Linked DNA regions of Homo sapiens. The protein of the gene in region 3 binds, or shares a complex with, the protein of the main gene of each other region. Each region holds a gene or a part of one and is shown on either strand. Other genes may lie near its edges.

Evidence for each region.
Region 1: POLR3E (region 3) and POLR3G share a complex: the UniProt entries of both Homo sapiens proteins name them as parts of the RNA polymerase III complex.
Region 2: POLR3E (region 3) and POLR3F share a complex: the UniProt entries of both Homo sapiens proteins name them as parts of the RNA polymerase III complex.

What each region holds. Positions count from the first base shown.
Region 1 is NC_000005.10:90,476,687-90,487,189, reverse strand, and holds part of POLR3G (DNA-directed RNA polymerase III subunit RPC7), read right to left. Parts: intron 2,162-10,503; exon of another isoform or gene 1,666-2,161; 5' UTR 1,623-1,665; coding exon 1,506-1,622; intron 1-1,505. UniProt on the Homo sapiens protein: DNA-dependent RNA polymerase catalyzes the transcription of DNA into RNA using the four ribonucleoside triphosphates as substrates.
Region 2 is NC_000020.11:18,459,468-18,470,458, reverse strand, and holds the start of POLR3F (DNA-directed RNA polymerase III subunit RPC6), read right to left. Parts: upstream 3,070-10,991; 5' UTR 2,953-3,069; coding exon 2,891-2,952; exon of another isoform or gene 2,788-2,890; intron 1,516-2,787; coding exon 1,398-1,515; intron 1-1,397. Other genes in the region: DZANK1 (double zinc ribbon and ankyrin repeat-containing protein 1), read left to right, coding at 3,592-3,597, 5,080-5,209, 10,153-10,306. UniProt on the Homo sapiens protein: DNA-dependent RNA polymerase catalyzes the transcription of DNA into RNA using the four ribonucleoside triphosphates as substrates.
Region 3 is NC_000016.10:22,327,117-22,337,619, forward strand, and holds the end of POLR3E (DNA-directed RNA polymerase III subunit RPC5), read left to right. Parts: exon of another isoform or gene 1-1,393; coding exon 1,394-1,471; intron 1,472-4,943; coding exon 4,944-5,069; intron 5,070-6,527; coding exon 6,528-6,584; 3' UTR 6,585-7,980; downstream 7,981-10,503. UniProt on the Homo sapiens protein: DNA-dependent RNA polymerase catalyzes the transcription of DNA into RNA using the four ribonucleoside triphosphates as substrates.

The DNA.
Region 1 (10,503 bases), on a different chromosome or scaffold from region 3:
GAAAGGGCTACCAATATTTATCCTTTTACAGTGAAGAAATTGAGAAGTGAATAAATGGCAAGATGGAGTTTGAAGCTGCATTTCAAGTTTTAAAAATTATACACACACATACATATACACAAATACGCGTTTGTATGTGTGTATATATTTACACAAATATGTTCATTAACAAGTGGATCTCCAGGGTACCTAGTAAAGACATTTCTGATTTCAGAGGATAAAGATAAGGTACATTTTCAAAATTTGATTAGGAATGTATACATTCATGCTGCAACTACTTATTGAGTACTCAACATGTTTAGACTATGGAGGATACCATGATAAATAAGTCAAAGTCCCTGCCCACAGGGAACTTACATTCTAGGAGAGCAACATACAACAAATTAGTAAACAAATGAGGTGACATACAATTTCACATAGTGACAAATGACATAAAAATAAATGAAGGTGGGTAAAGGAAAAATGACTGACAGTGCATGGAGGATGGAGGTGGAATCTATGCAGGGTGAGCATGCCTGGCCTCTTGGGGAGGTCACATTTGAGTAGAGATTGGGATAAAATCAGGGAGCCATCCATGCAAAGAGAAGAGATGGTTCCAGCAGAGAACCAGCAGGGCCAAAGGCCTGAGGACCCAAGGAGACCTGCGTAGCTGGGGAATGAGGACAGTGGTAGAAAAAGGGTCAGAGAGACATCAGAACGGAGAGATCGGGCAGAGCCTTTTACCCAGTAGTAAGGAATTTTAATTTTATTCCAAGTATAAAGAAATACTATGTACTAACATCCCCAGTGTTTAGAGGTAATCTCCTCACACATGGAAAAGAGCTTGTTTTTAAAAGCACTGTAAAGTGACATTATGCCAATACCTGAGATATTTGTCTTTGTTTTTATGCTGCGCTGAATATCAAAAAGGTAAAATACCAAGAGCAAAACGCAGAGACTCCTTGTGTGATACATCTAGATCCCTGGATACATTCTAAACTAAACATAAAGCGAAAACATTATATATTATGGAAATTAAGCTTGCAGCATACTCACTAAATTTTAAAACAACACTAAAATAAGCAAAAAAAGTTCAGTGGGGGAAAAAGTCAAGTGGTATACTAAGGAGCAAACTTAAATTCTATAGATACAAGATAAGAAAATCATTAAGTGAAGGTGTGATAGGGTGCGAACTGAGAACCATTATAAAACCTAATGACTTTTAAAACTATTATTTTCATATTGGAATTTATCAATAACACCAATACAAGTTGTAAGAATTGAAAACTAATTCTTTACTGGTTCACATAGTACTAAATATATTCATGGAAAGATGTATACAGTTTTGTTTTCTATATTTTAAGAAAGCAGATCATGAAAATATTTAAAGGTAAGTGAAACACACTCTCCTTTACTTTCTTATACTTGAGGATGCTATAATCATACATCCAGTCCCATATAGAATTTTAATATTCTCTGAAAAATGAAAAAACACACTATGAGAATTCAACTGTTCATATACTTACAGGAAATAGTGGGGGTGGTTTCAACACTACATCAGGTAACTTTTCACCTTTGCTAAATCCAACAGCCTCAATATTAAAGGTATAAGCAGCACGTCCTCTTCCTTTATTCCCAGCCATCAGAACCAGTTATACCAGATGAGTGGGCAAATTCTGAAAGGCACTATTAATGATTACGATTTACTGGATCACATATAAAAAAGAAATCAACACTTTAAAGCAAAATATAAAACTGCACCCCTTAAGTAGCACAGTTGACTTAAAATACTTTTGGAAAGCAAAACATGTACACAAATAAACATGTGACAACTGACTGTTGAACTGCTCACACTCACACACCTCTGGCAGGTAAGATAATGATGGCTTCAACCCCCTCACCCACTACTGCCCCACATCCAGTCCACGCAATTCACCCACCCTTCTGTGGTTTGGCAGTAGGATCTCAGATGTAATGTACATAAAAAGTGGACACAAGACAAGACCAGGCTGATGAGGAGAAGAAATCTTTCATGTCAACATAAAAACTATCATTAGTCATATATACTTTAAGACTTTAAATGATTTATCTTAGCATGTGAGTGTTTGGAAGAATCCCTGAGATCTAGTCCAATGTCTTCCTTCTAGAAATGGGAATGGGATCAATGAGACTCGAAAGATGCCTGTCCAAGAAAAAAAAAATTCAGAGAAAAACAGTTAAAATCATTAAAGTTATGATAAACCTGTACTCTTCAATTTTGGAGACAGGAGTGATATCACATATGCAAGTTGTATTGAACGTTTGAATCCTCTGATTATACTATGAGAACTGAGCTGCCAATGTATAAACAGGGATCCCTACGCTAGAGTTCTTTCAATAGAAGTCTGCATTCAACTGTAGTGATGATTATAATGCACATTCTTTACATTTCTTTCCCTGCTGATAATACTGAGCCTCATTTAACCCCTTGAACCCAAGAGAGAAATGGTATGTCCCCTGGACCACTCGGAGGAAGTCAGAGGAGTGGCATTGGTTTTGGCCCCATCAGCTCAGTCTCATTTCTGAATCTACTCACTTGCCCTCCTTGCAAAATTATGCAAGCCACAGTACTTCACACAGCTGCTCTACTCTTCACCAGGGTTTCTTGCCTGGTCATTAATGTTACCCTTCTTAGTCTACCACATTAATGGTGAAGGAACACTACGTAAAACCAACAAGGTGCTACGTCTTTATATCAATTTTACTGTCTACAATTTGAATATAGGCACTATTTTGGACCAAAAGGCTGAAAACTCCCAGCTCACTTTATCACAGGGCCAACACTACAAAGCAAGCGGCTCTCAGTTCTCAACCCTGGCTGCCATTAGAATGACTTGGGTGGCTTAAGAAACTAGAGCAATGGTTCTCAAAGAGTGCTGTCTGCAGCAGCATCACTCAGAACTTGGTAGAAATGCAAACTGTGAGTTCCACCACAGACCTAAAGAAAAAAGAAACTGTGAGTGGGCCCAGCACTGGTGTTTTAAGAAGCCTTCCAGATAATTCTATGTATGCTAAGTTCTGTGAATCACTGAACTGAACCAATCAATCCAGATCTCTTGGGGTGAGGATTGGGCAAGAGTCAGTTTTAGAAGCTTCCCAGGTGATTCTAATACACAGCAAATGTTAAGAGTATTGGTAGAACTGTTTTGGTGGAAGTCTTAGCTACTAAGGAGTAGTTGAGTTAAAATACACATGTAGAATCAAGGACTTCATAGATCTCATCTTTGAGGTTTAAAATTATAAAATTAGCCTTAGCAACTTAAAAATATTTGCCTTAAAGGTAAGATAACTATAATTGCTGTAAATCTATGTAACACTCAGGATGTGGCAGTCCAAGTTTTAATTCATTTGCAAGGAATAGCAGTAACAAGGCATTGCACTTTTAGACAGCCAATTTAATTTTTTAAATATTTTATTTATTTATTTTTTTCACTGCAACCTCCCTCCCTCACTTAAGCAATTCTCCTGTCTCAGCCTCCTAAGTAGCTGGGATTATAGGCGCGCACCACCATGCCCGGCTTATTTTTTTAGTAGAGACGGGGTTTCACCATGTTGGCCAGGTTGGTCTCAAACTCCTGACCTCAAGTGATCTGCCTGCCTCGGCCTTCCAAAGTGCTAGGATTATAGGCATGAGCCACCGTGCCCGGCCAATGGCACCCTGCCAATGATGGCCAATTTTAATGTCCTTCTACATTTAAGGCCCCAGAAGCAAATCATATATTCAACATCTTTATGTAATGAAACATCGTTTCCTGTTTTCTGTGAATTACTCAAGTAGAATGCACGGCATTTGATTTGACATAATGGCTATGATACTGAGAACATTTTCAGATATGATTTTGTAACTGCCCAAGGCGTTCACCCTGCCTGCTGTCTGGACAGAGCTGATTTATCAAGACAGGGGAATTGCAATACAGAAAGAGTAATTCACACAGAGCTGGCTGTGCGGGAGACCGGAGTTTTATTATTCCTTAAATCAGTTTCCCCGAAAACTCGGAGATCAGAGATTTTTTTTTTTTTTTTTTTTTGAGACGGAGGAGTTTCGGTCTTGTTGCCCAGGCTGGAGTGCAATGGCATGGTCTCCGCTGACTGCAACCTCCGCCTCCCGGGTTCAAGCAATTCTCCTGCCTCAGCCTCCCGAGTAGTTGAGATTACAGGCGTGCGCCACCATGCCTGTCTAATTTTGTATTTTTAGTAGAGACGGGGTTTCTCCATGTTGGTCAGGCTGGTCTTGAACTCCCAACTTCAGGTGATCCACCCGCCTTGGCCTCCCAAAGTTCTGGGATTATAGTTGTGAGCCACTGCGCCCAGCCAGAGATCAGAGATTTTAAAGTTAATTTGGTGGGTAGGGGGCCAGTGAACTGGAAGCGCAGATAGGTTGGCTCGGGGATGAAATCATAGGAAGTCAAAGCTGTTCTCTTCTGCTGAGTCAGTTCCTGGGTGGGGGCCACAAGATCAGAAGAGTCAGTTAATCGATCTGGGTAGTGCCCCCTGATCCATCAAGTGCAGGGTCTGCAAAATATCTCAAGCACTGATCTTTGGAGTGGTTTAGGGAGGGTCAGAATCTTGTAGCCTCCAGCTGCATGACTCCGAAACTATAATTTCTAATCTTGTGAATAATTTCTTAGTCCGACAATGGCAGTCTAGTCCCCAGGCAAGGAGGAGGTTTGTTTTGGGAAAGTCTGTTATCGTCTTTGTTTCAAACCATAAACTAATTTCCTCCCAAAGTTAGTTCAGCCTATGCCCAGGAATGAACAAGGACAGCTTAAAGGTTAGAAGCAAGATGGAGTCACAGTTAGGTTAGATCTCTTTCACTGTCTCAGTCATAATTTTGCAAAGGTGGTTTCACGCCCAAGAATGAACAAGGACAGTTCAGAGGTTAGAAGCAAGATGGGATCAATTAGGTCTGATATCTTTCACTGTCATAATTTTCTCAGTTATGACTTTTGCAAAGTTGGTTTCAATCCCTCCCTTTGGGTTTCATAGTTTTACATTATTCATTTCGTAAATTTATCCCTGCAGGCCTCCATATTTGAGTTTTCCTTCATAACTGCTTGAACACTAAAAGTTGATTTGTCATCTTTAATGTTGTCGTTTTAAACTACAAGTCTATGCCTTTTTTGGTTTACTAATACTTACATTTACTATACTTACATGCACAAAAGTCAGTATATTAAATCTCCATATACCCACTACTCAGCTTCAAAATTATCCGTATATGACTATTGTACTTTAACTATACTTTTCTACTCCCATGCTTCAGATTATTTTAAACTCTTCAGTATGTATCCTCTCTCAGAGTTAAGGGCTTTTAAAAAAATCACAATAACATTGCATCTACAATTTTAACAATAACTCTATACCATCATCTTATATAGAACTAACATTCACATTTCTTAGTTATCACATAAATGTTTTTACAGTTAATTTGTTCAAATCAAGATATAAAAAATACATGACATTTAACTTTCTTTTAAACTGTAATGGTTTTCCCATTTTTTTTTCTTTCTATTTGTCTAAGAAACTAGGTCAGTGCCCTATACAATGCTTCTTAAACTTTAGGTACAAGAGAATTACCTAGGAATCTTGTTAAAAGGCAGATTTTGAATCAGTTGGCTGCAGACAGAAACTGAGAATCTGAATTTTTATCAAGGTCTCAGGAGACATCAACTGGTTTGTAAACCATACTTTGAAAGTAGCAAAGCTATATAATTTCCCATATTCTGGATTTGACTGATTTATACCTGAGATGTGATTTAACATATTCCTGTATTCTCTGGGTGTATTTCCAATAAACAGGTAAACTAGAGGTTTAGATTTGGGTTTGATTTTTTTTTTTTTTTCAAGAATACTGAAAAGGGATGCTCTCTCTTTCCTTCTCTATTACATCAAGATGAACATAAAGTCTCCCTCTTGGTATTGATCAGGCTGGTCATGGGTTCAGGTGTTGGTCTATTTCATTAAGTATAAAGTGTCCATCAGTTTTCACCTAATGATTTTAGCAGTCACTGATGATCACAATCTAGATCAATTTTTCCATTATGAATTGCAAAATGGTGGTATACAAATTTTATCTTTCTTTCTGTTTTATTAATTGGAATTCCACCAGGGATCAATTTCTCTTATCTATTATTTAGTTACCTTGAAATAAAGTTCATACAGGAACTATATTTATTTTAATAGCCCAGCTTATTACATCTCTCTACATTAAAAAAGCAGGAAAATATCCAAATGGACTTGTTTCAATTGCTGAGTCACTAAAACATATGCTGAGCCTAGAGAAAGCGTATCTCCCAAGTATCAAAACTGCTGAGCAGAAGGGGTCACACCTTTCACTCTAAGAAACAACTGCAAGAGCCCACTAGGCCTACTCAAAACCACTGGGCTGCACTCCAGTCCAGGATTTGCCACTACTTAAAGATTAAAAACAATTCCAGGTAAAGTTTACCAGACTTTCCTCATCATGAAAATTAACTGGAGGACCTGCTAAACATAGAGTCCTAGGCTTTCTTCAAGCCCTCAAACCTACCATACCAGAATCTTTGGAGGTGGGCCCTGGAAAAGTTTGGAAAACTCACCCTAAAAAAAGAGGACACCAGCTAGCACTGCTTCATGGAACAGCTCTTGAAAAATAACAAACTCTATTGACTCTAAATTTCCATTTTTATCAAGCAATCTTTGGGTGTATGAATTGCTATCATTAGCGAAGGTACCACCCTTGCCAGAAAAACTTCCTAGCTTTTGACACATTTAATAATTATGTGGCATTCCAGCCTACAAACCCATCTCTTTAAGTTAGTTTTCATGAATCCATTACCCTGTACACAGAGGAGCTGATAAATTCATTTTCTTCTCCTGCAGAGCTCAGAGAGAGTCCCTGGATCCTGGTAAATGTATCATGAAAGAAACAGCCTACAAGTGAGACTGTGGTTGAGTTAACCACTGTCTCATTCCTTTTTCAATACACCAAACTCTAGAATAAAGGAGTTTTAGTGCTTTCTATATTTCCTCATGCTCCAAATGTTTCTCTACTTCATATGGCCCAATTTCATTGAGTCATTCATTCAACCAATATTGAGCATTCCAGGCACTGTGCTAGGAGCCAGAGAGCACTGATCAATCATATTCTTTCTAAATGTCACTTTCTTTGCAATTTCTCTACCATAATCCAGCTCAGTCCTTTTTCACCTCACTTCTGATTAACTGCAAACTTTGTGGTATCCCTTGTTCTTCCTGTTTAATTTATGGATCCACATTACTCATCCTAAAGCACAGTTTTGATTCTGCTACTCTCCTCATCTTCCCTCTTGGCTAACTGAATTAAATCCAAACTCCCTATTTACTCAGAGCCCTTTTAAGATGGTTGCACCCTATTCTCCTGACTCACTATAGTCATGTCTTGAATACCAGTCTTTCCACTGCAACTTACTCCCTCTGCCTCCCTGACTTGCTACATCCCTTTTCACCAAAAAAGCCAGTTTAAGTCCCTCAGCAACCACAACAACCACTTCATCCCACATTGCTCTTGGAAAGATCCTCCTGTTAAAACACAGATTAAAAAAAAAAAATTTCAGGTGATATATGTTGCCACACTTGTCAATTTTCAAAGAAATAGAATACCACTTTTGGGAAATTGATCTTTTCCAAAGGGGAGGAGTTTCACCTATGTTTTTCGTTTGTTGTTTGTTTGTTTTTTCCCGAGATGGACTCTTGCTCTGTCGCCCAGGCTGGAGTGCATTGGTGCGATCTCGGCTCACTGCAACCTCCGCCTCCCGGGTTCAAGCAATTCTCCTGCCTCAGCCTCCAGAGTAGCTGGGATTACTGGTGCCTGCCACCAAGCCCGGCTAATTTTTGTATTTTTAGTAAAGATGGGGGTTTCACCATGTTGGCAAGGCTGGTCTTGAACTTCTGACCTTAGGTGATGTGCCTGCCTCAGCCTCCCAAAGTGCTGGGATTACAGGCATGAGCCACCGCGCCTGGCTGTTTGTTGGTTCTGTGTTAAGCAGGGATTTTATCCTCCCTACTGTCTACCATAGTGCTTCCTATATAGCAACAGCTCCACAATTAATGTCAAGCTTACCCTATTTGTGCACTGTGATTTGATGAGCAAATCTACCCACAGAAGGACAATTCAGTCAGCCCATTATTAAGGCTTTTTTCCCCCTTTCTTTGAGTGGGACCTGGCTGCACATTGGAATCACTGAGAGAGGTTTTAAAGAAAAGAAAACCCAGGATTCACCCCAGAACAATAAAATCAGAAGCTCTGGAGGTACCATTTAAGCATCAGGACTTTTTAAAGCATCCCAGGAGATTACAGTGTGCAACCCAAATTAAGAACCACTGCATTTTTAGTAGAGACAGGGTTTCACCATGTTGGCCAGGATGGTCTTGATCTCTTGACCTCGTGATCTGCCCTCCTCGGCCTCCCAAAGTGCTGGGACTACAGGCTTAGCTGGACATGGTGGCACGCGCCTGTAGTCCCAGCTACTCGGGAGGCTGAGGCAGGAGAATCACTTGAACCCGGGAGGTGGAGGTTGCTTGCGCCGCTGCACTCCAGCCTAGGCGACAGAGTGAGGCTCCCTCTCAAAAAAAAAAAAAAAAAGAACCACGCAGATTAAACCTCCCATTTTACAGAAGAGGAAAGCAACACCCTAAGCGGTTACTTGATTACCTAAAGACGCAAAGCTAATTCCTAACAAAAGCAGGACTGCTTTACCTTTCCACTGTTCTTCCATTTGCATTACACTTCAGGAAGCATAGGTCTAGGCTGGTTAGAAGACTTTTTTAATCCCAGGGAGGTCTTTATTCAATGAAGTGAATTAATAACTGCAAAACAGACTCAATTAAAAATGTAAAATCAGTAGCATTGCCCCTTCCATTTCAGGATGTCTCCTGAAAATTTCTATTCAGAATTGTTCTGAGAGGTTTGAAAATGGGTGTAGTTTAAGCATCCAAGAGCTGAAATAAAAAAGTCAATTTTAATCAACTACCAAAACAACGTCCTAGCAGATGCTGAGCTAATCTCTGAAATTCCTCCTAGTTCTAACATTTTATGAGTTATGAGGTAACTGAAATGTCTTGTCCTCCACGTCTTACACAGTTCCTTGTCCACACTGAGGCAGGAAAATAGGGTCTGGAGGCAGGGAACAAAAGGCCAATTCACATTACGGCTATGACAGGAAATATCCTCTCCATAGGGCATATGCCAAGTAAATGACTTTGTAACTTTACTTCATCCTCTTCATTTACATAGGGTGTACACCAAGTAACTAAATGGAAACCCCTAGAGGGTATTTAAACCCCCACAAATTCTGTAAGGGGACCCTTGAGCCCATATGCTCCACCCACTGCCTCACTGGAGTGTACTTTCATTTTCAGTAAGTATCTGCTTTTGTTGCTTCATTCTTTCTTTGCTTTGCGCGTTTCGTCCAATTCTTTGTTCAAGACGCCAAGAACCTGGACACCCTCCACCAGTAACAACGTCAGCTCCATGAATAAATGCACAAACAGATAGAAGCAGACATAGAAGCTAGAGGAGGCAGTGAAAGTCAAGTCACGGTATTATTCCTGATGAATGACCCCTAAATTGCTACAATCAGGATAGGTATTCTGACCTGTCTACTTCCAACCCCTCATCTAATAGTAGAGGTTTACCAGCTCTGTTCTCTCTCCCATGTTCTGTTTCTTCCACCTCTGCTTCAGTTCAGACCCTCTCATCTCTCACCTGGACCTCTAAAACAGAACAAATAAACTTCCTGTGGCCGGATTCTCCCTTTCAATCCACTCTGCAGTCTAGGGTATCTTTCTGGAATACAAATCTTGACATGTGACTCTCCTTAACAGAGCTTTGGAGTCTTTCTGCCTCTCACCACAGGCACCCCACGCTGTGGCCAAGTCAACCATTGCATGCCTGGAGTGCCCTTCCTGCCACATCCACTTAAGCCCCAGGTTCTTTTCAGATGCCATGCAAATGACACTTTCTCCATGACAATTTCTTCCACCCTACATGGAGGTAGGCCTCTCCCTTCTCTGTGTTTCCCAAGTACTACTCTGCTTTTAAGCCCTTTTTACAATCATGTTGTAACTGTCAGCTCTTATCTGTCTCCCAGGGAGCCTCTTCAATCCAATCAAGTATTTATTAAGCACCCTCATCGTCAGGCCGTCTTCTATGAATTGGGAATACAGTAGTGAACAAAACAAAATTTCTCCTCTCATGAAGCTCATAGTCTAGGGTAAGAAACTGACAAAATATATTTTATAGGAAATGTCAGGAAATGATAAGAAAAATAAAGACAGGAAACATGGATGCTATTGTGGAAAGGGTGGCTGAAGAAGTCCTCTCTTACTTGGTGATACCTGAGCATAAGCCTGACAAAAGTAAGGCAAAGAGCCATGTAGAGAATTAAAAAAGGATATCCAGTGAGATGTGGGATGCAGGCAGGGGGACCTGGAAGTGTGAAGGTCTCCTTGGAAACTTATTCTCCT
Region 2 (10,991 bases), on a different chromosome or scaffold from region 3:
TATGTATCATCATCCATGGCTGCTTCTTGCTAAAATGACAGTGTAGTTGTGACAGAAATCATATGGCTCACAAAGCCTAAAACATATACTGTCTGGCACTTTATAGAAAAAGTTTGCCAACTCCTGAGCTAGAAAATTGATGGGAAAGGTTTAAGAAAAGATTCATCGGACCCCAAATCTCCACATCCAGAGCCCTTGGAAATCCAACAAGGCTAGTAGACTTAAAAAACAAATCAGTCATTCAGATGAGGCCTTGGCGTAGAACTCTTTAACCTAACTGCTACTAAAGCCAAACTGAAATGCTCTTAGGAAAAGGATGTTTTGGTGATGAGGGAAAGTAAGGGAGATTTAGAGCATCGGCACCACTTGGTGGGTTTTTAGACAGTCTTGCTTGTTTGTTTCTGGACAGATGGAGAATGGCTTCACTGATAAATTCCATTGCAATGTCACTGGGGGCTAAGGCTGCACTTCCTCCCCAAAGCCCAACATTCTTCATTCAACTGGACTCATTCTTGCTTCCTGAAATGCTCAGAGTGACAATGTGGAGAATGAAACCCTGATGACTGGGCTCTGTGACAACTCATAGGAAAATCGGGGGGTGGAATATTTTATGGGAAATGGCCCAACACCAGCAGTAGGAAGCAAACAGAAGGTGAGAACAGACTAGACCTATGTATGGCAGTGGCAATTAATAAATACAACAGTTATACCATAATACATTTATTTCATTTGTCTTATAACGCATAATTATTTCTTCTTTTTTCAATTCAGGTAGTTTGAGCTGTTTCCTGGTTTAGAGTCTTATCAGTCAAACCTAACACACTTTCTCGTTTTATGACTGCTGTATTAGGGTTCTCCAGAGAAAAAGAACCAATAGGATACACCTCCCTCTTGAAAGATTCATCAGAAGCTATTTGCTCTGTGATTATGGAGGCTGAGGAGTCCCATCATCTGCCCTCTGCAAGCTGGAGACCCAGGAAAGCTGGTGTTGCAGATCAAAGGGCTGAGAGCAGAGAGCTGATGGTGTAGATACCAGTCCAAGTCTGAAGGTCTGAGAACCAGGAGTGCTGAGGGCACAAGATTCATAGCCCAGCTCAAGATTGAATTCAAAGAGTGAATTCAATCTTCCTCTGCCACTTTGTTCTATTTAGGCCCTGAATGGATTGGATGATGCTCACCCAACTGGACCCATATCTACTTTACTCCGTTCACCAATTCAAAATGCTAACCTCTTTCAGAAACACCCACACAGACACTCCAATAAAATATTTAACTAGATATGTAGGAATCCTGTATCTTAGTCAAGTTGACATGAAATTAACCATCACAACTACATAATAAAAACCAGTGATAATCAGCATATCAGTAATTATGCAAAATAGTTAGATTCACCTTACCATAGACAACAACCTATTGATGGCTACTGCCCGCTGCTGGGCTTCTATATGAGGCATTTCATTCTGAATTACTTGGTCTGTGATTCCATGAGGGAACTGGTGACATAATTCTATAATCCTAGAAACAAAGGTATTAATGTTATCCTTCATGGTTACCTGTTTCAAGAGACAGTGGGGGTAAAAATACAAGTAGAATAGTTTGAAACTGTGCCTTTTTCACATTTGGCAGACAATCTGGGTTTCTGTGATGGTTTTGGATCAAAGCATGTTAGAAATTGAAGAAGATGATTTCTAAATACATGTTTACAGTATTATTGTTATTTAAGAATATTTCTTTTCCTCACTAATAAGAACTTTAAATTAGAGCAAAAGTCTAATGAAATCACAGAAAAAATATTAAAGCTGAGACTTCAGTTTTCTCGGGTGTAATAAGCATGACAAAGTTAAGCCATAAATCTGCAAGCAGGAGGCAAATGCAGATGTTTCTGGTAGGAAGCCAAAATTTGTTATGACAATTCACCATAATGGGGCCTGTTTTTGGAATTATACCTACCAAACAAAAAAAGTCAAAATCTTCACCTAGTCGACATCAACAAATGTATTATTCCTAACAGTCTGAGAAAGTTGAGTCTTTTAAAACTACGTGAAAATCTAAGAGTGGCAGTGCCTCGGTAAAATATAAAACTGGGCCGGGCGCGGTGGCTCACGCCTGTAATCCCAGCACTTTGGGAGGCCGAGGCGGGCGGATCACGAGGTCAGGAGATCGAGACCATCCCAGACAACATGGTGAAACCCCGTCTCTACTAAAACATAAAAAATTAGCTGGGCGTGGTGGCGCGAGCCTGTAGTCCCAGCTACTCGGGAGGCTAAGGCAGGGGAATCGCTTGAACCCGGGAGGCGGAGATTGCAGTGAACCGAGATCGCGCCACTGCACTCCAGCCTGGCGACAGAGCGAGACTCTGTCTCACAAACAAACAAATAAAAATAAAAGTGGCAGAGGCTTTGGGTGTCCTAAAAGTCTTGAGTTCAATACTGCACTGAAACCACCTGGCTTAATGTTACTTCGTAATCACCAACTGCGCCCTAACTCCGCCTAAACGTTTTGTCATAGACGTTCCCTTAGTGACAAGAGCGATCCTGGATCAGAACATGTATTCACAAGTGTTCTACAGGGAAAGAAAGCCGAGGGCTCCTCTCAAAGCACTGATCGCGTCAAAGTAGGAAGGCAGCACGTCATCACAACTTCCCCAAAAGTATCAGGGCAAAGCCAGCCAGCTACACAAAGTTGCAAGCTGTCAAACCCATTTTGAACTTCTTGAGTTCTGCTCTCCCAGGATGGGAAGGAACAAGTGGGTCCAGAACCCCGCAATCGTTTTTCCCGCGTGCTCACCTAACCCGCTCCGGCCACTCCCAAGGGATCCCGGAGAAGGGGTCCAGCTGCCCAAATGACTGGGCGCCTGATGGAGTGCCAAGCCGGAGCCTCACTGGTTTACCTGTTTTCTATTTCGACCGGATCCGCGTCAGGCGGCTGCACCTTCACCTTCACCTCCGCCATGAGGGCGCAGTTCCTGACGCCTGGGGGGAAAGATGCACGGAGCAGCCCGGTAGCAAGCCGGGGAACCCGGGGAACCAGTGGAGGATAGCGCTCTGCTGAGGCCGAGGGGCCTTCTTCCTCGTGTCGCAGCCGGTCCTTCCTTGCCTTTCGGCGGGAGGTGGCCAAGCTGCGCCTGCTCCGGCCCACTTACAGGCGCCGCTACAGCTTCTTATTCTTGTTTTCCAGAATGTCAATGCCCATCGGACGCACAAGCCTGGTTCCTTCATTCTGAGTTGGGAAACCAACTTTTAGCACTTGGCAACTCTGTGAAGGAATATTCTTAGATGCCTATGGGAAAGCACTGGGAAAGGAACTCCAGGCGGGTACCAGGCTCCCTGCGGAGCGGCAGGGGCCGGTCTAGTTGCTAAGAAGCTGAGTCTCCACCAATCATCTGCCCAGCACCCAGTGGGCGGGGCGCGGCTCGCCGCGTCTGTGGTAACCCGGGCGGCGGCGAAGGAGGAGGCAAGAGGCGGTGAGAGGCTGGCGACTGGGTTGGGCGCGGCAGAGATGCATTAGGGGTCCCGATCCCGGGCCCCGCGGTTAGAGGAAGAGGAGGGCGGCTAGAGGAGGGGAAGAGCTTCCCTTACTCCAGCCGAAAGGATGCAGGTGTCCTTGGCAGCCCCTGATGGGCGGGAACAACCAAACGGGATTCCGGATCCGGGCTGCGAGGGGGCGGTCCACGTTGGGAGAGTTGAGGGGTCTGGGGATCCTGTTGACTGCACGTTGCCATTTGGGCCTGGCGGATCCGCCTTTTTTCTTGATTCCCTTTGCGTGGGGCCCACTGGCCACCCCAGCTTCCTAAGGGCAGCTGCTAGTTGACGCTCGCGAATTACTTCCTCTCCTACATATTTTTTATTTAGAATTTTTCAACTACTTTTATTTTATCTGCCTTTCACTTAAATGGAAATGCGACTATGGGCAAGTCTCAAGTCCAGCCACACTCCCGTAGGAGCTATTGTTGTGCTGTCAGTATCTGTAGTTTATATTCTTGGCCCTAGATCCGGAACTATCCAACAAGGCATTAAGTTCACCCCTTAAATTTAGGTACCCCATTTTTGAGAATACAGTCTGTGACAAAGCTCAAACTGCAGACATGTTCAGATCAGCATTATTAGAACTGCAACAGGCAAAACTAAAAAGAAACTAGAAATAGCCTAAATGCCCAGCCACAAATGGATAAATAAGTACAGGGAAAACTAAATAATACAGTGAGAATGCAAGAAGTAGACTATAAAAATGGAATGAATATGTAGATTATAATTGGGCAAAATCTATGGATTATTAATGAAATTTGAAAAGGCAATACAGAGATGTAAATGGTTGTTGTGTTAAGGTGAGCGTTTTTTCCCCCTGAAACCTTCTGTGCATTAATTATGACAACCTTCCTCCCCACCCTCACCTCCAAAAAGACCAGTAAGGCTTTCATACTGGTAGTTAATTATTAATACCAGGATTTATAAATACAGTAGATGAAACGGGAGGCTTGTGTTTATTGGTCACTGTTTATATTCTTGCAAACTTCCTTTCCACTGAGAAGTAGTACTCTGCAGTCCTTCTAAAGTGTCTTTGCAGCTTTCAAATACTAGAACTGCTCTGGTGATAATGGCAAGGCTGTGAACCCGGAGCTTTCCCAAAAAAGTTAGCTCTAACTAACATTTTGTGGTACACACAGAATTACTTCTGTTCCCCTTGTATGATGACTTGCCCTGAAGCCAAGAGAGCTGACACACACCAGAGGCAGGAAAAGGCGATAATGATTTACAGGGAACTCAAGTCAGAGCGTTAGTGATAGTCTCTGTTTTGCCTTACTCATTTAATTTGTCCTTTTAAAGTAACTTCTTTCTTTTCCCCATCTCATTCATTCATGCTCCTTTCGCAGAAGTGAGGTATTTAGATAATCAAAACCCCACACAAGACCTCAACAGCAAATACAGATGAAATGTAATTATTATTTCAATTAAAAAGGGAATAATATTTGTAGTGCCATGTTAACAGTATTCTCTCGTTTTAACTAGTTTTGCTGCATTTAAATTAAGTGCTGCTCTTCAGCTTTTGTGTACATTGGAATTTATATGTATATATATATAGAGAGAGAGAGAGAGAGAGAAAATGACTGCTGGTTCAGTGTGTGTCCCTCAGATCATACCATTACGAGTGCCTCAGCCTGGAAAAGCTAACCATGAAATTGATAACAATACGCTTTTGGAAATGAAATCAGGTAAGAATCACATATGTTTGAAATTGTTTAAAATAACATTGTCATATTTCTTGTGTTATCTGGTTGCTGGTTTATCTCTTTGCCTGCTTTCTCACTCTTTGCTCAGCTTTTTGGGAAATTTGTAAAACTTCTAAAATTTGAAACAGTGCTGTACATTGATGGTTTATAGAGTGGTATACATTTAGATTAAAATGGTTAGCTTTGACCAACCTTTCATTTGTATAGTTTCAGCAATGTCTTGACTTACCTTAGCCAAGGTAAGATGTCCCGGTGCTGGCCGGGTGCGGTGGTTCACACCAGTAATCCCAGAACTTTGGCAGGCCGAGGCAGGTGGATCACTTGAGGTCAGGAGTTCAAGACCAGCCTGGCCAACATGGCAAAACTCTGTCTTACTAAAAATACAAAAATTAGCCAGACATGGTGGTGGGCACCTGTAATCCTAGCAACTCAGGAGGTTGAGGCAGGAGAATTGCTTGAACCTGGGTGATGGAGGTTGCAGTGAGCCGAGATCGCGCCAGTGCACTCCAGCCTAGGCAACAGAGCAAGACTCCGTCTCAAAAAAAAAAAAAAAAAAAAAAAAAAGTCCCGGTGCTCCCCAAACTTTTCCAATATGCTCATTATTTAGCTGGTATAATAAATTTGACCTACTGATACAGGCTTTCCAGTCAGACAGGTTGGAGACTTAATCCCTGCCTTGACAACTTCTAGTGACCTTGGGTACATTACTTAGCCTTTTTGAGTCTGTTACCTCACTGTAAGACAGGAATAATAATATCTACTTCTTAGAGCCATTGTGAGGATAAATAGGTTCGTGTATGTATGAGGTGCACAGGGTTTGGCATATAGTAATGTGAAAATAAATCTCAACTCTAACTACAGAAATAAAGCAGTGAGGGCCAGGCCTGGTGGCTCACGCCTGTAATCCCAGCACTTTGGGAGGCTGAGGCAGGTGGATCACCTGAGGTCAGGAGCTTGAGACCAGCCTCCTGTCTCTACTAAAAATACAAGATTAGCCAGGCATGGTGGCCAATGCCTGTAATCCCAGCTACTCGGGAGGCTGAGGCAGGAGAATTGCTTGAAGCCAGGAGGCGGAGGTTGCAGTGAGCCGAGATGGCGCCACTGTACTCCAGCCTGGGAGACAGAACAAGACTCCATCTCAAAAAAAAAAAAGAAAAAGAAAAAAGAAATAAAGCAGTGAATGTATATCCTGCTAATACGTATTCTTCAAAATCTTAAATATGTGTGTATATCTACACATACACATATATATACATACACATATATAATTAACATAAGGAAGGAAAGTTTCACAGGTAAAACATATGAACAAATAGATGTGTAAAAAAGACTTTGAAATTCCAATTTTTGCCTTTTTTTAACCAATTATATATTTTAATAACTGAAATGTGTACAAACTATCTGCATTTATGTTATGACCCCTGTGCTGCTTAGACCAAGAGTTCTAACTAAGCATATGTATTATTATCTGTGTTCTCCTTTAGCTTAAAAGCTGATACAATTTTTTAAACTGTCAAACCAAATTAAACATTTTAATGTATGTGCCCATAATTCTTAGGAGAAGTTGGGTGACTATTGACAAAAGATGATATGAATGGTAGGGTATCAAAATTCCCTAATATGTAAATATCAAATAAATAAATAGTTTTCACAATTCAGTAACAAAAAGAACAGTAACCCAGAAGAAAAATGGGCAAAGGATATGAAAAGACCTTTTTTTTGTTTTTTCTTTTACAACTTTTATTTTAGGCTTGGGGGTACATGTGCAGGTTTCCTACCTGGGTATATTGTGTGGTGCTGAGGTTTGGGGTATGATTGAGGCCATAACCCAGGTAGCAAGCATTGCTGTAGGTTTTCAGCCCTCCCCACCCTCTGGTAGTCCCCAGTGTCTATTGTTCCCATCTTTATGTCCATTTGTACCTAATGTTTAGCTCCCATTTATAAGTGAGAACACGTGGTATTTCGTTTTCTGTTCCTGTGTTAATTCGCTTAGGATTATGACCTCCAACTATATCCATTTGCTGCAGAGGACATGATTTCATTCTTTTTTATCACTGCATAGTATTCCATGGTGTGTATGTACCACATTTTCTTTGTCCATTTCACCATTGGTGGGCACCTAGGTTGGTTTCATGTCTTTGCTATTATGAATAGTGCTGTAAGGAACATATGGGTACATGTGTCCTTTTGGTAGAACAATTTATTTTCCTTTGGGTACATACCCAGTAATGGGATTGCTAGCTTGAATGGTATTTCAACTCTTATTTCTTTCTTTTTTTTTTTTTTTTTTTTTTAAGACCGAGTCTTACTTTGTCACCCAGGCTGGAGTGCAGTGATGCAATCTTGGGTCACTGCAACCTCCGCCTCCTGGGTTCAGGTGATTTTCATGCCTCAGTCTTCGGAGTAGCTGGGATTACAGTTGTGTGCCACCATGCCCAGCTAATTTTTGTATTTTTAATCTGCCTGCCTGGGCCTCCCAAAGTGCTGGGATTACAGATGTGAACCACCGCGCCCGGCCTCAACTCTTATTTCTTTGAGAAATTTCCAAGCTGCTTTCCACAGTGGCTGAATTAACTTACATCCCTGCCAATAGTGTATAAGTGTCCCTTTTCTCTGCAACATCTGTTAGTTTTTGACTTTTTAACAAAGGCCATTCTGACTGGTGTGAGATGGTGTCTCACTGTGGTTTTGATTTGCATCTCTTTGATGATTAGTGATGATGAGCATTTTTTCATGTGTGTGTTGGCCACTTGTATATCTTCTTTTGAGAAATAATGAAAAGACATTTTGTAGGAAAGGAAATATAAAGGTCTCTTAAACATATGAAAATATTTCTTCTCCTTACGCTTCTCTCTGCCCCTTCGTCTGCTTGCTGAGCAGAACTTATCCCTGCTTCACCTCCAAGCACTTAATCACCACCTGACAAACTACATTTCCTTGGTTGTTTACTGTTTCAGTGTCCTTCCTAAAACATAATCTCCATGAGAGCAGGGACCATTCTAGGTACAGGGGATATGCAAGGAGCCCCTAAGATATACTTTTGCATATCCCCTATACCTAGAATGATGTCTGGTACATAATAGGTATTCAGCAAACATTCATTGTAATGAATTAGTGAGTTTTACTCAAAATGCAAGAAAGATGAATTGAAACTACAAGATAGTATTTTTTTTAACCTAGGAAATTAGGAAAACTAAAAGAAAAATGGATAACACACTAGATGAGGAAGATTGTGGTCAAATAGGTGTTTTCATGCATTGCTGGTGGCAGTGTAAATTGCTTAACCATCCATGGAGGGCAGTTTGGAAATATTAATCAAGATTACAAATGCTGGCAGGGCATGGTGGCTCACACCTGTAATCCCAGCACTTTGGGAGGCTGAGGTGGGCAGATCACCTGAGGTCAGGAGTTCGAGACCACCTTGGCCAACATGGCAAAACCCCGTCTCTACTAAAAATACAAAAATTAGCTGGGCGTGGTGGTGGGTGCTTGTAATCCTAGCTACTCAAGAGGTTCAGGCAGGAGAATCGCTTGAACTCGGGAGGCAGAGGTTGCAGTGAGCTAAGATCGCACCACTGCACTCCAGTCAGGATGACAGGAGTGAAACTCCGTCTCAAAAAAAAAAAAAAAAGATTACAAATGCATGTATCTTTTGACTCAGCAGTAACTAGTTCTACATATTTGTCTTGCCCATATATTTACAGAAATAATTCTTTACAAAATTATTTATTATAGTGCTTATAATTGCAAAAGAAACAAAGAAAAGGAAAAAAGAAGACAGCCTAAAGATCCATGTGTAGGGAATTGGTTAAATTATTGTTCATCTATATAAGAGAATGTGGTGCAGCTATAACAAATAATGAGGAAGCTCTTTTTTTAAAAAAATTTAAATTTATTTCCTAGGGAGCTCTTTATGTACCAATATAAGACATACTGATAAATGAAAAAAGAAATATGTGGAACAGGGTACAGTATGCCATCATTTGTGTCAAAAGAGAGGGAGAAATAAGAATATGTACATAGATGCTTGTATGGATATAAAATATTTTTGAAGGTTACTGAAGATACCATTGATAACCTCTGGGAAGCTGGTGTCGTGGGTTGGGGGAGACTTTTCACTGTATACCCTTTTTGACCTTTTGAATCTTGAATCATGTTTGTGTCAGTGCCCTGTTGGAGAGGCAAAAGAGCATAGTGGTTCAAGAGCAGGGGCTATGTATCCAACCTAGCAGAAGTCAAATCACAACTCCTCTATTATTTAGCAACTTTATTAATCTCTCTGGGACTCAGTTATCTCATCTATAAGATGGGTGTAAAATAGGACCTACCTCATAGGGTTGTACAGATGAAATGAGCTCATTCAAGTAAAGCACAATGCTGGTACAGAGAAAGAACTGCATTATTGCTATTACTATTCATTTCCATTATGTATATATAATAACCTATAGATCAGTTATTTAAGGAGATTAACACAATCTTAAATCACAACTTTTTTTTTTTTTTGAGACGGAGTCTCGCTCTGTTGCCCAGGCTGGAGTGCAGTGGCGCAATCTCAGCTCACTGCAAGTTCTGCGTCCCGGTTTCTGGCAATTTTCCTGCCTCAGCCTCCTGAGTAGCTGGGACTACAGGCGCCTGCCACCACGCCCGGCTAATTTTTTGTATTTTTAGTAGAGATGGGGTTTCACCATGTTAGCCAGGATGGTCTCGAACTCCTGACCTCGTGATCCGCCCGCCTCGGCCTCCCAAAGTGCTGGGATTACAGGCGTGAGCCACATGCCTGTCCTAAGTCACAACTTTAAATCTTAACTTAAATCACAACTTTAAATCTTAAATCACACACTTAGATCTTAAACTGACCTATAGGCATTATTCAGGGACTTGCTACTTTGGTGTTAATTATAGTTATCCTGTTTTGGATTTTTCAGACACTCCAGATGTCAACATATATTATACTCTGGATGGCAGCAAACCTGAATTTCTAAAGAGAATTGGTTATGGGGAAAATAACACATTTAAGTATATAAAACCTATTACTCTGCCTGATGGAAAAATACAAGTTAAAGCTATTGCTGTCTCTAAGTAAGTTAAGAGCATGGTGATTAATTTAATTTATGATATAATAACATTATGTTCTAATTTTATTCATTTTTTCCTATCAGAATCAGTGCTGCATTAGAAGGACACTACTGAAACATTATTTTAATTTCAGCATATGTATGTAACATTTGTGTTTTACTTGCCTTTCATTGAGGCATACCGTAAGGTGCAGAAATCATAAGTATACAGCTCAGTGAAGTGTTATGTATATTAATACTGTTTTTATTTTAAATTCCACATTGGGGTTTCAGGAAGGAAGATCCTTTCCAGGGCCGGGGGTCTCTAAAGAGCTCCATCTTGCTCTGAAGAAAATACTGTGTTCGCGGAGTGGCTCTTTTATTCCCCAGGATGCAGCCTACAACCACCGCCGTCATTCTCGATTTCGTTTTGTATCGACTTAATTGGCCTTCAAAGCTACTGTCATTTCAACTTGTTGGACATTAGCTACCATACTTTTTTCTTTATCCTTTTTTTTCTTAATGACTTTTTCCCATTTTCAAATATAGAAACACTATTTAATTTGGCAACCTTCACCATGTGTTGTAGGCAAAAAACAAAACAAAACAAAAAAAAACCTCAAATCCTTGCAATTCTGTGTGGCTGTGATATAGGAATTATTTTTCCAGCAATGCAGGTTTGGCCACATTTTGGGAACATTTAAAAGCCC
Region 3 (10,503 bases):
AATGGGGTGAGGTGGGGCTGTGGTGGTCTCTAAGAAAGCATTGATGTTTTCATTGCCAAGGTCAGGAGCGGGCCTGCAGCCTTGGGTGATGATCTGAGGCCAAGGCCCATCCCTGTGTATGAGGAATAGAAACTAGGACAGGAGGCCTTGTGGAGCCTAGGCTGTCTCAGGGGATCGGCCCTGCTGGCAGGCAGCCCCCTGTGGGAGGTACTGGCAGAGTTCGGAGCTCCTGCCCACCCAGCACATGGGTCTGGGTCTCCACAAGCTCACCTTTCTTCATGAGCTGGGCCAGGACAGGCAGGACACCTGCCTGACATTAGTTGTTTTGGGCCGCTGGAGTGGACAGAGGTGAGGGGTGGGACATGGCCACCCTCAGACACCCTCACCCCTCCTTCCGGACCCCCTCTGTCCATGTTGCTTTGGGGTGGGGCCAGCGTCTCCAGGAGACACCATGGCCCTAACTGTAATGCTCTCCTTGCCATCCTGACAAGGAGACTGTATTGTAGTCACATCCAAGACGTAAGAGACCTCCGATCCCAGCCACCTCTGTGTTGTACATGAGGGAGCTGAGGTCCAGGGCAAGTGAATAGATCGAGAACTTGACTTGAACTCCTGGTTCTGCTGCTTATTAGCTGTGTGACCATGGACAGTGAGCAAACCTCTCTGAGCTTACTTTTCCCCATGTACTACCTCCCCAGTTTCTAATGCTCAAATGCAAATGTGTATTGGAGGCCTCACAGGGCTTTTACTGGTAGTAACCATTATTGCTACTTGTGTGATGGAACCAGGACTGGAAACTACCATCCCAGATGCCCCCTCCCCTGTCCCCTTCTCTCCAGGACCCAGGCCTGTGTCACACTTGTCCTGGTCTACCTTTGGACCAAGTGGCCTGGATTGCTTGGGAGTCAGGCAGTGCCTCTAACCCACACTGACATGGTACATGTGGGAAGCAGTTGAAAAGAACCCCCAGGGTACCCCAAGAGTTATGGGGAAGGGGGCGCCCCTCCATCAGGGTTGGCATCTTCAGGAGGGAGGACTCTGGGTGTTAAAGCACAGTTGAGTTGGTGCCAGGCTGATGGGAAACAGACGCAGCTTCCCCACTGTACGGAGGATATCTGCAGACTCGAAGCCGGGCATTTCACTGGGCCCATCACACTCCCCCTCTCGCTGAAGCCCTGTCAGGCCCTGGGGGGTGTGCTGGCCTCCTCCCCATGGTGAGGTGAGAGGCACAGGTTTGTGGCTGCCCAAGGCCCTCAGAGATGGTGAGTAGCAGAAGCTGGGATTGGAACCCATGTTCCTGCATCTGGGCTGGGGCAGACAGGGAGGGATGAGGCAAGCAAATGGATCCATGGGGTAGAGATGGACAAGCAACTCACCCCTGGGCCTTGGTCAGTTTCCCCCCCAGACTGCTGCTTCCCCGGATGAGCAGAAGGTGTTTGCCCTCTGGGAGTCTGGAGACATGAGTGATCAGGTGAGGTGAACTTTGCTGCCATCTTCCCGAAGAGCCAGGGGGGTTTCCTGCAGCGTTGGAGGCCTTGGGGGACATGTGCACCCAAAGTGCAGCCACACATTTCAGATTTTCTGGCACACTCGGTTTTAAATATCCTGCTCCAACTCTGTACGCTAACAAAATAAGCTGTATGTGCCAATAGTTTGAACCTAAACCAGTGGTTCCCAGATGCCAGTCTGTGAGCCAGCTCCATCAGAATCATCTTTTAAAAAATACAGGCTGGGCGTAGTGGCTCACGCCTGTAATCCCAGCACTTTGGGAGGCCAAGGTGGGTGGATCACCTGAGGTTGGGAGTTTGACACCAGCCTGACCAATATGGTGAAACCCCATCTCTACTAAAAATGCCCATAGTCGTGGGAGGCTGAGACAGAATTGCTTGAACCTGGGAGAGAGAGGTTGCAGTGAACCGAGATTGCACCACTGCACTCCAGACTGGGCGACAGAGCAAGACTGTGTCTCAGAAAGAAAAAAAAAAAAAACATAGATTCAGTTCTGTTCAGTAGGTATGCGGTACTGTCCTAGGTATCTGAATTTCTGTAAAGCTTCCTGAGCAACTCTGATCCAGCCAGGCTTATAGAGCACTGGTGAAGCACATTTCTCAGGCGGCCTCTGGCAGCAGGAATCAAAAGGATTCCTTGTCAGATGTCAGGTCCTGGACTTTTAGGTTAAAGAAATTGGTCATTTTGCCTCTAGTCATACTGTGATGGGGAGGGTCACAGGTGTCCAGTGCCCAGAAATGTGAGTGGAAGCAGCAGCGCCTTGCGTGTGTGTGGTGTAGTCATGGACCCTGCATCCCAGCTTTTCTTAGGCCGTGAACGTACCTAATTTGATGGTCGAAACGCCAGTCGGTCTGACCGTGTCTAGGCCCTGCTCCTAAGGTGTGGGGAGAAGGGAGTCAGCAGAAATCCCACTGAGCTCTCTGTCCCCAGCTGCCTCTTAGGGGAGCCAACTGGCAGGCTGAGGATCTAAGGGGCTGGGGCCTTTTCCTGAGCAAGCTTGAGTGCTTTTGTCCAGAATAGAGGGTATCTGAAATACTTTGATAACAAAAAGGCAAAAAAACAAAAGTCATAAATGCAGATTTTTAAACATCAAATCAGACTAGAAGTTTTAATAGGAAAGCTCTTGCACTGCTGGACCTGACTGCCACCCCTCAGAGGTGACCACTTTTATTACTACTTTTTTAATAGAAACAGGGTCTCACTATGTTGGCCAGGCTAGTCTTGAACTCCTGGCCTCAAGCAGTTCTCCTGCCTCAGCCTCCCAAAGTGCTAGGATCATAGGCATTTACATCACCAAAAGATACCACTAAAATAGCTGCCCCCATTTAAAAAAAAAAATCAGCCTGTCATTAGCAATGGGCTTCCCATTGTGGTGGATGAGATTTAGCTCTCAACTATTTTAGGAGACTGTAGAGATAGATATGTTACGCCAGTTTTTTTTTTTTTTTTGAGATAGATAGCGTCTTGCTCTTGCTCTTGCTCTGTCATCTAGGCCTGGAGTGCAGTGGTGCCATCTCAGCTCACGCCTCTTGCGTTCAAGCGATTCTTGTGCCTCAGCCACCCGGGTAGCTGGGATTACGGGCTTGTGCTGCCTCACCCAGCTAATTTTTGTATTTTTAGTAGAGATCGCGGTGGTAGGGGTCGGGGGGTGGTCCCACCATGTTGGCCAGGCTGGTCTCGAACTCCTGGCCTCAAATGATCTGCCTGCCTTGGCCTTCCAAAGTGCTGGGATTACAAGCGTGAGCCACCACACCAGGCCTTTACCTCTTTTTAATTGGCTATCATTGTTTATAGCATTGTCACAGAATGAACTGAAAATCTATCCATTGTAGAGCCAAACATCAGTAATATACTATGATTGCATTTCCTTGTTCACTGCTTCCTGTTTTCACTTGTGTAATTTTCTGAACACATGTGTACCGAGGGTGATACTTTGCTTAATTAAGCCTGGTTCCCGGGAAGCCTCTCCCTCTGCTTCTCCAGTGAGACTCGCTCTTCCCCATGTCTGTTGCTGAATTCTGGAATCTCTGCTTCTTCCTTGCTTTAGCTTCTGAAGAGACAGAGGAGTTGTCTGCATTCTTTCATGTCTTAAAATGGATTACAATACAGTATTACTGTTTGTCTGGGACTAGAATTTTAAGAGGCAAAGGATACTTCATGTAGCAGTCAGCTGTTTACATGAACCATAGCAAAAAAAAAGGAGAATCAAATCCATCTCCTCTTAATGTTTGCAGAAAGATGCAAACAAAACCAGCTAAGTATGGAACAATGTGTGAGGTTATCAAAGTTTCTATTTTTACGTGATCAAATGATTTGCCTCTCAAAATTCTAGTCCTAGACAAATAGTGATACATGAAGCATCCTTTTTTTTTTTTTTTTTTTTTTTTTTTTTTTTTTGAGACAGAGTCTCCCTCTGTCAGCCAGGCTGGAGTGCAATGGCACGATCTCGGCTCACTGCAACCTCCGCCTCAGCCTCCTGAGTAGCTGGGATTATAGGCGTGTGCCACCACGCGTGGCTGATTTTTGTATTTTTAGTAGAGACGGAGTTTCACCACGTTGGACAGGCTGGTCTCGAACTCCTGACCTCAGGTAATCCGCCTGCCTCGGTCTCCCCAAGTGCTGGGATTGCAGGCGTGAGCCTCTGCGCCCGGCATGAAGCATCTTTAAGAGAGTTTCCATTGTTTAAGTTTTCAGAGTTGTTGAAATTCCATAACATTCTCCTTCTTGGTCTTTTAAATTTGGCCTGTATTCTTTCCTTTATGCCAAACTGCAGAATTTTTCATTATTCTGTATATCAGTCAGTGCCATTTCAGCTGTGCCCTGGTGCGGGTCATTATTGTACTAGACAATTGAGTTCTTATAAAATCCTGTGAGTTGTTACTTTTTTTTGTTTTTTTCAGAATTCTTATGACAGATATTAGACATACTGAATCCAATCTTTTCCATTTTTATTTTGGGGTGTAACGTATTTTACGGCATCCTGTTTCATGGATGCAGTGGCATGTTTGTGCATTAAGACTTCACACCAATTTTGACACCCTCTTCTCATCTCCGTGCAGCTTAGATTGTCGCTTCACCTGCTTGCTAAGTCCGATGCACGCCTGCATTTTACCATGCAGAAATATGTTCAAGCCACTCATCCTCTCATGTCTCTTCACCAGTTCTTTTGTTATGCTGGCATATACCTTTGTTTTTATTTATATTCAAGTTTCCAGACATAGCATTAATGCCTTTACTTTTGTGTTTTTATTTCTGTACACTGTCTTGCTGGGTCTCTAGAGATGACTTGGCTCATCTTTAACCAGAGGTGCTGCGTGAGGGTTTTTATCAGAGACTGCAACACAAAGTCAGGTGCATGGCTTGGGTGTCTTGTTTGGGGATGTTTCTCTTTTTAGATCACTGTTTCCCATCATAACGTGTTTTTGCTACTAAAGCATCGACAGGTTTTGCTTGAAATTTTTTCCAAAAATTACCGGGTACGCCGAAACATGATCCAGTCTCGGTTGACTCAAGAGTGTGGAGAAGATCTCAGTAAACAGGAGGTGGATAAAGTACTAAAGGTACATCCATTTTGTGCATAACAAACAATATCAAAGGCTCTGGAAGGGGCTGACAGTGTGTAGAAGGGACTCTAGTGTCTTTGTGTATATGAAATCAGGCTTCCTTGGGACCACTCCCCAGTCAGTCTTGTCTTGAGCAACTGTTAATGATTGATTGATTGGCATTGGTTGGGGAAGGGGGTATGTGCCAGAGGACTGACCCCTTCAAACAATATAGTCACAGTGGTGTCCAAGGGAAAGAATACAGCCATGGATGCTTTGTTTCTCTTTCTGGTTGGGCCAGGCCAGTAATGCCCCTTTCATCCCTCTTCTCTGCTTGTCACTAGAGACAGAAACTAAAAACCATGGCTTCAGGCTGCTAAGAGCCTAAAACAATAGAACAACAAAAAAATATGGTAGGTTGGATGAGCTTGGCAGTGGGTAGGCGTCTTCTAAAATGATAGGGCCTAGTTGAGAATCCTCACTCTACTCTCCCTTGAATTTTGAACTATCTTCTGATTGTTGCCATAGCCACACACATGACTTTCAGTAGAATCCATTCTTAAATTTAGTTTAAAAAGGAATATGATCTGTTTACTATATGAAAGCACCTAATGTACAACCTATAATGCTTTTCTGAAGTGACTGTAGTACAAATACCAACCATATTTGCAGCAACACTGAGAGACAGAAAACTGATGACAATGTCTTGTTTTGATTAAACATCCAGAGCCATATAAGTAATACTGTTTTTTAAGCACCCTTGTTCTGGGCATGTCAGTATCTGTATTTCGTAGACCCCCTTTTTTTTTTTTTTTTTTTTTTTTGAGATGGAGTTTTGCTCTTGTTGCCCAGGCTAGAGTGCAGTAGCACAATCTCGGCTCACCGCAACCTCTACCTCCCAGTTTCAAGCAATTCTCCTGCCTCAGCCTCCTAAGTAGCTGGGATTACAGGTGTGAGCCACCATGCCTGGCCCACCCTCACTTTTAAAATGCCCCTGAGGAATGGCCAGGCGCGGTGGCTCACACCTGTAATCCCAGCGCTTTGGGAGGCTGAGGTGGGTGGGTCACTTGAGGTCAGGAGTTTGAGACCAGCCTGACCAACATGGAGAAACCCCATCTCTACTAAAAATACAAAATTAGCCAGGCGTAGTGGTACATGCCTGTAATCCCAGCTACTTGGGAGGCTGAGGCAGGAGAATCGCTTGAACCTGGGAGGCAGAGGCTGCAGTGAGCCAAGATCATGCCGTTGCACTCCAGCCTGGGTAACAAGAGCAAAACTCTGTTTCAAAAAAAAAAAAAAACACTACCCCTGAGGAAAGGGTGGCTGGTAGTAGCCATGGTGGTATGGTTAGGCAGTTTTTGATTTCCCATTTGTATTCTATTCACTAATCATAAATCGAGTGTTGACATTGTGGACAGAATGTAATTAGCTCCTTTTCCTGCAAAAATCTGTGCTTACCCTGTTTCTCTCTCATAGGACTGCTGTGTAAGCTATGGTGGCATGTGGTACCTTAAAGGGACAGTACAGTCTTGACAATAGTAGCAAACTACTAACCCAGCAAATCTAAGCCCAAGGAAGAAGGGCGGAACCAGAAGTAGGGCCTCGACTTGCTTCAGACGACACAGAGCAAGAGGAACTGACCATCTCATGACCTGTGGCATTGCACGGTGCAGTGGACAGAAGGGATTATCCTCAGCCAGTCGCAGGGTCAGCTTAAGTTAGTTAGATCACTCCCAGAAGAGACCAGCTGGGACCTTCTTTGCAGTACAATTTGAAATTCCTGATGTATTTTGCTTATTATTTGGTTTCATTCTCATAATAAAGAGAGTGTATACTGACATGGGCAGGATGATAAAAATCATGGTTTAATATTTTCTTTTGTAAACTTAATGCCAACAAGGTCTAAGTTATGTTTACAACATGAAGAAAACCTCAAAGTTCTTAATTTTTAAAATGCCTAGAAGACAATATTTAGTCTTGGATTATCTATCTGCTAAGACCTCCACCAATTTCATTAAACCAAATTGAATTATTCTATTCTTGGGATTCTGTGGCCACTTCACCTTTGACAACAACCTACTTTATGTAGCAGTCTCAACTGTTTACATGAACCATAGCAAAAAAATCAGAATCAAATCCATCTCCTTTTAATGTTTGCAGAAAGATGCAAACAAAACCAGGTAAGTATGGAACAATGTGTAAGTGAGGTTATCACACTTTGATGTAAAAATTTCTATTTTGTGTATTTTTAAAATAAATGCAAACACTAAACTAGCATCATGGTGCTATCTTCAAATGGTTACAGGAAGGCGATCTTGTTGGGCTCAGCGTTACGTGTATCTAGAGGGAACGGAGCTAATGGAGGAAGACAGAGCAGCACTGTCCACTAGAAAGAGGCGAGTCACGTACATAATTTTGAAAGTTTCTAGCAACCACATTAGTTTAAAAAGGTCATGTTAGCATATTATTTAGCTCAAAATATCTAAAACATCAACATAAGGTAAAAGTCTTCAAAATCTGGCATTTTACACTTTCCTCAACACTCAGTTTGGACTAGCCACATCATAAGTGCTCCGATGCCACATGGGGCTATTTGCGACAGTATTGGATAGCACAGCCCTAGAAACTGATGGAAAAAATAAGAGTAAGCTAGGTTGGATGACATGTGAATTTTGGTATCTAGATAAGGCTTTCGCCATCTTTTTTGTACAACACAGTCACTAATTGTCTGAAGGTTTAAATGACGGTCTATGCTATTTCCCCACTCCCCCCAAAATAAAACATCTAATATTTTAGCTATAGAATCACTAAGGCATTGATCAAGGATGTACTTTGCCAAATAAGTATTTGGTAACATCACTTAACAAGTTGATCGTGTATTGATTCTGTTAACATATGTGAACCTGAAAAGTAAAGTTACCAAAAGCGATTTGGAATATGTCTCAGCTTTTCCATCCTACTTCCTTCTCACTTTGAAAGGGGAAATGCTCATGTGGGACGGCACAGAATGTTAGTCCCATCACCTTGCAGAACTTAATTGGCTCAGTGGAGAAGTCAGAGCCTTAAATACTTTACATTGATAAAAAGAACTGGTTAAAACACCAAACTCAAATAGCAAGAAAAAGAAACAAGGAATATAGGAGGGAACTATTGTTTTAAAAAAAATTGAGGGAACTTGGGATGTCAGAATAGGACTTTCCAGCACTCATCCCCCTGCAGAAACATGAATTTAAACAACTGTCCACACACAAAAATACCTTCACAAGAGTTAAGGAACCTCTAGAGATTACAGCACCTTGGTGTACCACAGAAATAAGATGTACTAAAGAGGATAGGAGGGACAATTTTACATTACCTAGCTTACCCCCTCCCCAGCCCCAGGCAGCACAGGGTGGAGAGAGAGAGAGAGAGAGAGAGAGAGAGACCCTCTACTTGGAGGAAGGAGAACATTGGACCCCAAAATCATGCCAGCCCCAGACTCCAGGCCTGCGCCAGGAACACAGGCTCTAAGCATACCCACTGCCAGGCCTGCACCCATGAGCTCACACTCTAGCAGGCACCCCCTCCCCACCCTGGTCCAGCCCCATCTGAGTAAACCCCAGCACTGGGCTGGCCCTCACAGACTAGGCTCCAATATCCCCTGCAGCCCCAGGTTCTAGGCCAGCCCCCATGGCCCCAGGATCCAAGCGAGCCCTCAGAGACTAATCTCCAGGCCAGTATCTATATACCCCTGGCTCCAGGCTGATCTATATGCCCCCATGCCAGCACCCACAATCCCAGGCTCCAGTACAATACCCCTGGACCCAAGGTCCATGTGTGCCTCAGCACCAGGCTCCAGTGGACCCAGGTTCCAGGCACATACCTCAGTAAGCCTCAATGCCAGGCATGCCCTGGCGGACTGAGGCTCCAGAACAGTCCCTATGGACCCAGAACCTAGGCCCACCCCTGCAGGTTTTTAGGCTTCAGGTCAGCTCCCTGGATGCAGGCTCCAGGCCTGCCCTTGTGGACTCAGGCTCTGGTTGTACCCCTGCAGACCCAATCAACTGGCCCACTCCACTGGACCTACGTTCCAGGATTAATCCTATGCATGCAAGCACCAGGCTCATCCATCTGCTGACCTAGGTACTAGGTCAGCCTGCTCAAGGACTCCAGCAACAAGCCTGCCCACAGAAGACCACACCAGACAACTTGCCCAGAATCTCTGAATGGGCTCACTGGTAAACGGCTGTTCCAGGCAAAGTCAGACTGCAAAGATTAGAATCAGTCCTTACCACTTCATCCAATGTACAGACATCAACATATGACCACAAGGATCAAGAACAATCAGGGAGACATGCTATCACCAAAGTAACAAAATAAAGCACCAGAAATCTACCCTAAAGAAATGGAGATTTATGAACTGCCTGACAACTCAAAATAGTTTTAAGGAAGTTCAGCAAACTTCAAGAAAATACACAGATATAACTCAACAAAATAAAGAAAACCAAATCAAGAAACCTAATAGATTGAAGTTATATATTTTTTACAAACCATTCTGAAGCTGAAAAATAATATGAATGAAATGAAAAATGGAATAGTGAGCATCAACAGAATTGATCAAGCAGAGAATCTATGAACTCAAAGACAGATTATTTGAAAATATAGCCAGAAGAACAAAAAGAATGAAAAGGAATGAAGAAAGCTTAAGGGATTTATAGGACAGCATCAAAAGAGCAAATATTTGAGTTATAGAAGTTCAGTAAGGAGAAGAAAGAAATAAATCACAAAATAGTAGCAGAAAACCTTCCAGATCTGGAGAAAGATATAAATATCCAGGTATAAGAGTATCAAAAGTCTCCAATCAGATTCAGTATGAACAAAACTATACCACGACACATTATAATGAAATTGTCAAAAATCAAAAGACAAAGGGGAAGATCCTAAAAGCAGCTAGAGAAAAGAAGCAGATCACATATAAGGGAGTTCCAATAAGGCTAGCACTTCTCAGCAGAAACCTTACAGGCCAGGAGAGAGTAGGATGATATATTCAGAGTGCTAAAGGAGAACAAATTGCCAACCATGAATACTTTATCCAGCAAAACTTCAGAAATGGAGAAAAAGACATTCCCAGACAGACAAAAGCTGAAGCATTTCATCATCACCAGCTCTGTGTTTACAAAAAAATGTGAAAGGGAGTTCAAGCTGGTAGAAAAGGATGTTAATTAGTAACATGAAAACATATGAAAGTATAAACCTGGTAAAAGCATAATGTCAAACTCAAGAATACTCTAATACTGTAATGGTGGTATATATATTGCTTATCTTTAGTATAAAGGTTAAAAGATAAAACTATTAATAGCTAATTTGTTAAGGGATACAAAATATAAAACTTGTAAATTGTGACCTCAAAAACAAAATGTGGGAGAGAGAATAAAGTATAGTTTTTAATGCAATCAAAGTTATCTGCTTAAAA